Linked DNA regions of Homo sapiens. The protein of the gene in region 2 interacts with the protein of the main gene of each other region in a pairwise test. Each region holds a gene or a part of one and is shown on either strand. Other genes may lie near its edges.

Evidence for each region.
Region 1: the proteins of ZNF197 (region 2) and RSPH1 interact in a two-hybrid assay, tested with the Homo sapiens proteins (one large-scale study listed by BioGRID and IntAct).
Region 3: the proteins of ZNF197 (region 2) and HUNK interact in a two-hybrid assay, tested with the Homo sapiens proteins (one large-scale study listed by BioGRID and IntAct).

Annotation. Positions count from the first base shown.
Region 1 is NC_000021.9:42,475,587-42,479,239, forward strand, and holds part of RSPH1 (radial spoke head 1 homolog), read right to left. Parts: intron 1,859-3,653; coding exon 1,705-1,858; intron 462-1,704; coding exon 312-461; intron 1-311.
Region 2 is NC_000003.12:44,634,986-44,638,638, reverse strand, and holds part of ZNF197 (zinc finger protein 197), read right to left. Parts: intron 1-3,653. UniProt on the Homo sapiens protein: May be involved in transcriptional regulation.
Region 3 is NC_000021.9:31,994,999-31,998,651, reverse strand, and holds part of HUNK (hormonally up-regulated neu tumor-associated kinase), read right to left. Parts: intron 2,885-3,653; coding exon 2,704-2,884; intron 127-2,703; coding exon 1-126.

The DNA.
Region 1 (3,653 bases), on a different chromosome or scaffold from region 2:
TGCAACAGAAGAAAGCCAGGCTCTGCATGTCTGACAGGGCTCTCCAGCCTGGGGTCGGTCCTCCTGTGACAACGCGCATGGGCACCGCTGCACACCCAGGCCTCTCCCACTGCAGCCAGGCTTGCAGGAGGGCCTGCCAGGGAGCAACGTTCTGAGATGGCTCCAGTGAGCGCTCACAGGGGGCCCCCTAAGCCTTCCTCGAGTCCCTGGGGCCCAGCTGAAGGCAGGCCTTGGTGAAGGGAAGGGGAATCCCACTGTTCGTGGCCCCTAAGTGCGGGCCCTCGCCCCACTTCCCTGCGCAGGGACCTCACCCTCATCCATGTCATAGCGGAACTCCTCCTGGTCATACTCCCGGCTCTCTTCCCGGAGGACGTCTGCATCTTCATCTCCAGGCCTCATGTCCATCTCACCCTCGAAGCCCTCCAGCAGAGCCTGGGCCTCCTCCCCGGGTTCTCCTGCACCTGAGATAAAACACAAGTCAGAAGCCTGAGTTCCTGGGAAAAATGGAGCCTGCAGACCTGTGCAGGGCAGCTGTCCCCTGGGCTGCCGTGCCCCCACCCTCCCCCTCCCACTGGCAGCACCTCATGTTCCCCATCTCAACATCCACCCAGCCCAGCCTAGGCCTGGCCAGGGGAGCAGCCCAGTCCCCACTGTAGTCAGTGGCTTGGGGATGGGAGCAGGTAGTCTGATAACTTTCATTCCTGAGGGTGTTGATGAGACTCTTGAGAAAGAGAAGTCCCCTGGGGTTCCTGAGAGTGCCAGCCAGGGGAGCCAGCAGAGAGGAGAGCTGGGACAGAGGGCAGAGGCTGCCCGGCCATTCTGGGGGCTGTCCCGGAGCTTCCCAGTCACATGAGCCAAGAAATTCTTAGCAGCATGAGTATTCTTTCACGGAGGCCAATCGGAGTTGGCTTTCCTCCGCTTGCCATGGAAGGGATCTCACCCGGGGTAGCCACCTTCAACTTTCCCCAGCACATTAAGGACTTCCAGAAAGACCACTGGGTTGGACATGGAGGTGCCACACGGACCCTTCTTCAGGGAAGGGCTGTCCCCTCAGCTGCTGTCAGTGCCAGCCCGGGGTCACACCCACATTCACTCACTGACCTAGGTGAGGGGATAAGGGTCCCCGAGACGCCACAGTGCTCCCCATGGAATGAAGCAAGGTTGTGGAGGCCACACCTCCGCCTCTGTCCAATCAACTCTGTTTCTTTCCTCTCCCCTCCGCTCTCCGGGAGTGTCCTCCAATCCCAAAGGCTCTCCCTAATAACATCCCGCACACTCAACTGACCCAGCATCTGATTTTCAGAGAGTCCAACCACACCTGGCCTGAAAACAGGATGTCCACAACTCCCACAGCCCAAAGGCGCCCACACCCTCCATCCCACAGCCTGGGGATGCCCCACACCCTCTGTCCCACAGCCCGGGGGATGCCCCACACCCTCTGTCCCACAGCCCGGGGGTGCCCCACACCCTCTGCCCCCTCCACCCCACAGCCCGGGGATGCCCCACACCCTCTGCCCCCTCCACTCCACAGCCCGGGGATGCCCCACACCCTCTGCCCCCTCCACCCCACAGCCCGGGGATGCCCCACACCCTCTGACCCCTCCACCCCACAGCCCGGGGATGCCCCACACCCTCTGTCCCACAGCCCGGGGGTGCCCCACACCCTCTGCCCCCTCCACCCCACAGCCCGGGGGTGCCCCACACTCTCAGCTCCTGGAGCGTCTTGGCCAGGTCCATCCGTAGAGGTCGGCTTTTTGGGGAGAGTTGGTGTCCACAGGGCCAATTCAGTGATTTGGGTAGCTTTCCATTTTGGAACAACAGTTACTAATTCTTCCTCCTCTTCCTCTTCTCCTCTTTCCTATTTTAAGTGCAAAAATGTACATTTACCAACATTTGTGTCATCTTGGTCTGGAATATTAAAAGTGAGGGAGGAAGGACAAGTTTTGAAAGACAGGTTTTGGCTTGTGTTTCAGCCTTTTTAGGACGTCACTCAGGAATCAGACCAGTTGCTGACTATCCATGGTATAATCTCAGGGTTGAGAATGGATCTTGAAAGAGCCAGGGTGAGGAATAAAGTCTCCAGAGCAATGCTGGGCCAGCGAGCTTTATAATGGGTGCCACAAAAGGCTTTCAGATGAGCATGTCGCAGTCGCCTGCAATAGCTAAGACATGGCCAGGACTAAGTGGCCAGAACTGAGTGACCAGGAGTAAGTGGTCTTTTCAATTGTTCGGCCACATTTTGCAACTCTAATATAAAAAATCGTGTATTATATAATTATATGTCTATTGAGCTTAGTAGAAACATAATTATTTATATTATTCTTTATATAAATAATAAAAGAAACAGCCATTTGTTTTAGGCTTAGGCCTAAGAAGTTCCTAAGATGTCCATATGATATGGATTTGCATAAACGCAAAAGCTCAAGTGTCAAGGATTATGGGGAAAAATAAAATTCAAGGAAAGCAGAATGAGAGTTCATCAAGTCTGAACATGGAACACTTTGTAATAAAAAATGTACAATTCCGACAATGGTGAGCAGCCAACATGTGCCAATTTTGCCAAGCATATTTGCCTACTTCTCAGTTTTGTGACTATCACAAAATTCCAAAGATCTGAGCATCAGCACTATGACTATGGAACACTTCGCTGCCACATAGGTGATAATACCGATGACAGAGAGGGGCAGACACCTGCCTCTTCCACTGAGTCACTGGGAAATCAATTACTCTCTATTTTGGTCTCAGAGTGTTTGAATATGGCCACCCATGAAGGGTGACACCAATGCTGCAGGACAGGGTCCTCAAACTTGACTTAGATCAGAATCACCCAGAAAGCATTAAAAGACAGATTGCTAGCCCCACCCCCAGAGTTTCAGATTCGGCAGGTCTGGGATAGCGTCCAATAAGCTGCATTCCTAACAGATTCCCAGGTGAAGCTGACAGCACTAGTTTGGGAACTGCACGCCACTTTATGTATAAAACCAAGAGGTGGAACCCTTTCACATTGCTGGTGGGAACGTAAAATGCTGCAGCTACTGTAGAAAACATTTGACAGTTCTTCAAAAAGCGAAACAGCATCACCATATGACCCAGCAATTCCACTCCTCGGTATATAACCAAAGGAACTGAAAACAGAGATTCGACCAGATGCTTGCACACCAATGTTCACTGCAGCATTATTCATAATAGCTAAAATGTGGAAGCAACTCAATTGTCCATCAACAGACAAATGGATAAGCAAGAACCTTGAAAACGTCGTGCTAAATGAAAGAAGCCAGACACAAAAGGACAAATACAGAATGAATTCATCTATATGCGACATCTAGAATAGGCAAATTCATAGAGAAAGAAAGTAGATTAAAAGCTATCAGGGGCTGGGGGAGGTCGAATGGGGAGTTGTTGCTTAATAGGTACAGAGTTTCTGTCTGGGATAACGGACAAGCTCCAGAAATGCATCATTCTCACAGCTGCACAACACTGAACGTACTGAATGCCACTGAAAGCATGCTTTAAAATGGCAAATTTCAAACTCTATAAACGTACATATAAAACCATAATTTAAAAAGAAACAGGGAGTGAGCCGTGGGCTGCAGCTTGGCAAGCCCTACTCTAGAAGGGATACATTCCCCTTACTAGGGAGAGAGAACACGGAG
Region 2 (3,653 bases):
GCTGTCTGCTCTTGCCACTTCTAGTCAACATGTACTGGAGGTTCTAGCCAGAGCAATTAGGCAAGAGAAAGAAATAAAAGGCATCCAGATTGTAAAGGAAGAAGTAAAATTATCTCTATTTGCAGATGACAAAATCTTGCATATAGACAATCCTTGGAAATCACTAAAAAGCTATTAAAACTAATATATAAATACAGCAAGATTGCAGGATACAAGCTCAACATATAAAAATCAGCCTGACATAGTGGCACACACCTGTAGTCAAAGCTATTCAGTAGATTTAGGCTGAGGACTGCTTGAGCCCAGGAGCTCAAGGTCAGCCTGAGAAACGTATAAAACCCCATCGCATTAAAAAAAAAAAGTGGTATTTCTATGCATTAGTATTAAATAATCCACAAAGAAAATTAATAAAACATTTATAATAGTCTCAAACAATAAGATTAGGATAAATTTAACAAAAGAAGTGAAAAACTTATATTCTTATATTCTGAAAACTACAAAACATTACTGAAAGAAGCTGAAGGCCTAAATAAATGGAAAGAAACCTCATGTTCAAAGATTAAAAGATTTAACATTGATAAATGGCAGTACTCCTCAAATTGATCTACAGATTCATTGCAATCCCTACTAAAATCTCAGCTTGCTTCTTCAAAGATATTGACCAGCTGATACCAAAATTAGATGGAAAGTCAAGAGACCTAGAGTAGCTAAAACAATCTTGAAAAAGAACATAGTTGGAAGACTCACACCTTTTTATTTCAAAATGTACCATGAAGCCAAAATAGTAAAAGAGGGTGATACTGACATAAGGGTAGACATATAGATCAAAGGACTAGATTTGAGACTTTAGAAATAAACCCTGATATTTATGATCAACTGCTTTTTTAAAAGGGTGCCAAAACAATGCAATGGGGAAAGCACAGTCTTTTCAACAAATGGTGCCTGGGATAAATGGTGCCACATGCAAAAGAATGAAGATGGATCCTTATCTCATACTATATAAAAAAATTAACTCAAAATGGATAAAAGACCGAAATGTAAGAGCTAAAACTTAAAAGAAAACATAGACATAAATCTTCCCGGCCCTAGATTAGTGATGGTTTCTTAGATATGACACCAAAAGCAGAAGCAACAAAAGAAAAAAAAAACTGGAATTCATCACAATTAATGACTTTTGTCCTTCAAAGGATACCATCAAGTAAGGGAAAAGTCACCAGGCCCAGTGGCTCATGCCTGTAATGCCAACACTTGGGGAGGCTGAGGCAGGAAGATCGCTTGAGGCCAGGAGTTCAAGACTAGCTTGGGCAACACGGTAAGACTCTGTCTCTACAAAAAATTTTAAAATTAGCCAGGCTGGTGGGGTGCATTTGTAATCCCAGCCACTTGGGAGGCTGAGGTGAGAGGATCGCTTGAGCCCAGGAATTCAAGGCTGCAGTAAGCTATGATCACACCACTACACTCCAGCCTGGGCAACAGGGCAAGACCCCACAGAATGGGAGAAAATATTTGTAAGTCATATATCTGTTACGGGACTTATATATAGAATATATAAAGAACTCTTACAACTTAGTAATAAAAAGACAAATAACTTAGTTAAAATATAGACAAAGAATCTGAATAGACAGTTTTCTCCGAAGACGTACATATAGTCAATAAGAACATAAAAAGTTGCTTGACATCATTAACCATCAGGTAAATGCACATCAAAACCACAGTGAGATATCATTTCAGACCCACTAGGATAGTTAAAATAAAAAAGACAGATAATAACAAGTGTTAGGGATGATGCAGAGAAACAGGAACCCTTATACGCTGCTGGAAGGAGTGTAAAATGGTGCAGTTGCTTTGGAAAACAGTCTGGAAGTTCCTCAAATGATTAAATACAGAGTTATCATAAGACCTAGCAATTCTACTTCTAGGTAGAAATGAAAACATATATCCACACAAAAAATTATACACAAACGTTCATAGCAGCATTATTCATAATGGACCAAAAGCGGAAGTACCTAAGTATTTATCAACTGATAAATGGGAGATACATCCATTCAATGGAATATTTGGCAATAAAAAGGAATAAAGAACTGATACCTGATACAACATGGATGAGCCTTAGAAATACTATGCTAAGTAAAAGAAGCCAATCACAAATGACCACATATTGCATGATTCCATTTATATGAAATGTTTCAAATACACAAATCTACAGAGGTAGAAAGTAGATTGGTGCCTGCTAGGGCTGGATTGGAGGAATGAGTTAGGTGAAATGAAGGTGGACTGCTGAAGGGTTCAAGGTTCCTTTTGGGGTTGATGAAATTTTTTTTTTTTTTTTTTTTTGAGACGGAGTCTTGCTCTGTCGCCCAGGCTGGAGTGCAATGGCACAATCTCGGCTCACTGCAAGCTCTGCCTCCCGGGTTCAAGCCATTCTCCTGCCTCAGCCTCCCAAGTAGCTGGGACTACAGGCACCTGCCACCACACCCGGCTAATTTTTTTGTATTTTTAGTAGAGACGGGGTTTCCCCGTGTTAGCCAGGATGGTCTTGATCTCCTGACCTCGTGATCCGCCTGCCTTGGCCTCCCAAACGGCTGGGATTACAGGCATGAGCCACCATGCCGGCCGAAAATGTTTTAAAATTATTGTGGTGATGGTTGCACAACTCTGTGAATACACAATAACCACTGAACTGTACACTTTAAATGGTGAATTTTACGGTATGTTAAATATACCTCAGTAAAACTGTTATAAATCTTTCCTTCCTGGTGGAGGAACTGGGAACCATCCATCTCCTCCTCCCACTGTCCCAATCCTTCCATCATTCCCAGGATCCTATGGGCTCACACAAACTTATGCACCCTTTTATTATACAGAATGTGCCAAATTGTATTGTAATTATAAGTGGAAATGTCTATCTCTCCAATCTGAATGTACTTTAAGGCAGGGGCTAAGCCTGACAGGGGAGGTACTCAATATTTCTTAATACTTTCCTTCAAGTTTTAGTCCAATCTCCTAAATAAACATATACAAATATTTTACATACTGAAGTAGTATGTACAAGTTATCTGGGAGTCTACTTTTCTACCACAGTTTATCGATGCATGAAAATTGAGTACACAGAGTTGTCATAATATTTGATAGTGTCATAATATACTATTAGGTCAAAACACCATGTTCTGCTTAGTACTTTACCCTTAGGGAATTTGTTTTGCCCAACTTTTAACCATCATAGTTACCTGGGACTATTTTTAGACATATAACTTTTATTTCCTCTTTCTGAACCATTTCTTTAATGTATCTCAAATCAGAGTTACTAAGTCAATGGGAATAAACATTGGGCATCTGCTTGCCCGAAGCCCCAACAACATCGGAGTGCACATTTTTTTTTTAATTTATTAAAGTAGGTTCAAGTTTCTTTTTCTTCAAAGAGCCAGAATAATCAAGCAATTACATTATTTTATTGGTTTTTTTTTTTTTTTAGTTTAACTCTTAGACCTATCTGGAATTTATTTTAGTATACAGCATGAGGTATGGGTCCATGGTGAGTGTTCTTCATAAAATTAGCCAATTAATCCATATAGTCTATTTTAAAATTTTTAGGAAAGATTGATTATTGAGTAAATAGCTTTGGAACTACTGAAAGCTACTTGGATTAAAAAACA
Region 3 (3,653 bases), on a different chromosome or scaffold from region 2:
GGGGCTCCGGTTTCTTCACAATCCTCGGGGTCCTGGGCGGTGGCACGGGGATGAACTCCATGGAAGAAGAAGCCACACAATTGGAATCTGAGGTTTTGCGGAAAATATTGCGGCAGCCAAAGGAATCTGCACACCAAGAAAGCATAAACAATCATGAGGACGTCCGGACAGTGCTCACGGCCCTTCTCCTGCCTGCTGTGACCTCCAGCTTAACTGAGACAGTTCCCGCCAAGGTCAGAAGAAACCAACCGGCAAACAGCCTTGGCTACTTTGCAAAAGTCACCAGCAGCATGTCACTCTCCCCACAGAGGTCGGGCAGTCTTCCTAGGATGGAGGGACAGAGGGCTGGCGACAGGACGTCTCCTGGATTCCAATTTGCCTCATGGCCCCAGCCTAACATCGTCCCTGCTTTTGGTTGCTTAAAATTCTGGACCCTAGGCAGCGGTGGCTCACGCCTGTGATCCCAGCACTTTGGGAGGCCAAGGTGGGAGGACTGCTTGAGCCCAGGAATTCAAGACCAGCGTGAGCAATATGGCAAGACCCCGTCTCTAAAAAAATTTTAAAAAATTAGCAGGGTGTGGTGGCATGCACCTGTGGTCCTAACTACTTGGGAGGCTGAGGTGGGAGGATCACCTGAGCCTGGGAAGTGGAGGCTGCAGTGAGCCGTGATGGCACTACTGCACTGCAGCCTGGGTGACAGAGTGAGACTCTGTCTCAAAAAAAGAAAAAAAAGAAAAAAAAATTCTGGACCTTGCCAAAGGATCTTGGAATAAAAAAGGTACATGCACTCAACAGCACATCCATAAAACTCCCAGAAGCACACCAAGGTCCCTTGACTGAATTCCTGCCAATCTGGTCCTTGGACAGCCCACAGTGGAAGACATGTTTCCCTTGTGACATTTAAAAAATTTATTTATTGTGGTAAAAAACACGTAGCAGAAATGTTATCATCTTAACCATTTTTAAGTGTACAGTTCAGCAATAATAAGTATATTCACACTGTTGTAGAATCAATCTCCAGAACTGTCTTCCTGTTGCAAATCTAACACCCCATATACATCCCCATTCTCTGAAACCCCCAGCAACCACCATTTTACTGCCTGTCTCTATGAATCTAACCACTCTAGGGACCTCATATAAGTGGAATCACACAGTATCCGCCTTTAGGGACTGGCGTAATTCACTTAGCATAATGTCCTCCAGGTTCATCTGTGTTGGAGCATGTGCCAGGATTTCCTTCCCTTTTAAGGCTCCCTCGTGACTTTTGATCTGGATGGAACCTCATCCAATTCTGAACGGGGGAAGAATATCATCCATCCATACAGTTAAGGCAACCTGCCAGATCCCCATGGTTTCTGTCTCTGGTTGGCATAGACTAGAATCCAGGTTTGGAAACTGGGCCAGAAAAGAAAGGGGAAACCCCCTACAGATTTGGGGATGAGGGAAATAAAGCCAAGTTCATGCGGAATAAGCTCTGTCTTAGCTTCTTTCTTCTCCCATAACGTTTTATAGGCTCTGTGGAGGCCCAGCTGCAGGAGCAAGCTCCTGCCCACTGGGATCGATTTTGGGAGTGGCTGAGGGCACTGGGAAGCCTCCCTGCCTTGCAGAAATAAACACACAGGCACCGAAATGAAAGGCCGGCGCAGGCACCTGAGATGCATCAGCAGAAAGAAGTAAAACTTCATTAATGGCCAAGGTCTCCAGTGTTCCAGCTGCCACATGGACACTGCTGCCCCTCCCCGATCCACTGCATGCTCTGCCCCAGGGAAAGCAGGTTGCTTTGGGCAAAGTGGGTACAGTGGCTTCTCTCCGGGAGCAGCATGGGAGATAGAAGGACAGGAGGCAGGTTCAAGTCCCGCTCAGGGACTAACTGCCCGCTACACCTGAGTGTATCTCAGACAGCCACGGCCCTCTCTGAACCTGGTCTTTCATATTTTAGGAGATTGAACTCCAAGAAGTGTCTCATCCCCCTCAGTAATAAGAACCTCTCCTCTACTTCATGGCTCTGCTTCAGGACGCCCTCAGCTCCTGTGTCCCCTCTTGGCGTTTCTACCATGTGTTAAGCCTGTGCCCAGTAAGGTCTGCCTTTTGCATCTTTTAGCACTCGTCCCAGAGGAGGGAAACATATTTGTCAGTTATCTGTGATGGGCTGGATTCTGACTCAGGTGAGGGAGCTTATATATGCATCTCATCTCATCTACCCAACAGCTCCAACAGGTGGGAGGCCTTACAAATAATCCAGTGAAGATCCTCAGCACTAAAGGAACTTGGACCTCTGCAGGCAGTAGAGCTGGGATTTGAACTCAGGGAGATACCCGGTCTCTGCTCTGCACCCCATCTCTACTCCCACAATTCCTTACAGCCTCATCTCTGCCCCTGCAGTACCACACACCCTGATCTCTGCTCCTGCAATACTGTGCCTCCCAACCTCTGTTCTGACAATATCATCCACCCCAATTTCTGTTTCCGTAATACTTTGCACCCCATCTCTGTTTTCTCAAATTCTTCCTGCACAGATGGCTAATGCCACACAGCTTGGTCCTGGACTGTGCTCAGGCAACCTCAGGTCCATTAATCCTGCTTTTCTGTGGGCACAGGAATCATCTCTGCTCTAGGGCCCATTCGACCATCCCCTGTGAGGGCTACACAGCGGACACACAGCCCAACACGAGTGGCCTGAGAGAGTCCCCAGAGCTGACCCACCTTTGTCGGGGAAGCTGGACTTGGAGGCCTTCCGGTCCTTCAGGAGGGCTTTGGTGTTCTGAATCTGTGTCATAAGCGAGCCTGAGGGCTGTTTGTGCGAGGGCAGGTTCTTGTCCAACTTCTTGGAGAATGGTCGATGAAGAAAATCCCCTCTTTTTTCTTGTTCTTTGGGCTTTTTATCCTACAAATCAGAAGCAAACATATGCACTTAGACACATACTAGAAGACACAATGGGATTCCTCTTTGAAAAGTCATCCAAACTGATTAGAGAAACTCCACCTTTTCAATACTCTATGCTCTCAACTGTGTGTTGAATGAGGGAGGAGCTGTGGCCCAGCCAATGCTCCAGGAAGCCCATCTCCCTCTGCCTGGGCAGCGAGAGGCCTTCAATGGACCCCAGTTCCCTTTCACTGTGCTCTTCCAAGGCATTCCAGCAAGGGCAGGGCATTCCTAGGAGGTCAATTCTTCTGGAACAAGCCCAACAAACCAAGGTGAAGCAGAGCAGGACTTCTGGAAACCCACTGTCTACATTTAAAGATTGTGCCTGCAATAACGGCTTTGCAAAGGCAACTGGAAACATAACTGCTTCCACCTTCACATCAGGTTCTATTTGGGGCAGTCAAGCCAAGGAGGTGCCAACACAACATATACAACAAATCCAGAGAGCCCTGAGCGGTCCTGATGGGCTTCCAGCCCTTTCTACCCTAATCGTGTGAGCACTTACTTGCGTACTTAGTACTCGTGTGTATGAACGTGTGTATGAAGCTTTTTTTTTTTTTTTTTTTTTTTGAGGCAGGGTCTTGTGCTATCACCCAGGCTGGGGTGCAGTGGTGTCATCATATCTCACTGCAACCTCGAGCTCCTGGGCTCAAGTGATCCTCCCACCTCAGCCTCCTGAGTAGCTGGGACTACAGGTGTGCATCACCATGCCCAGCTATTTTTTAAAAAA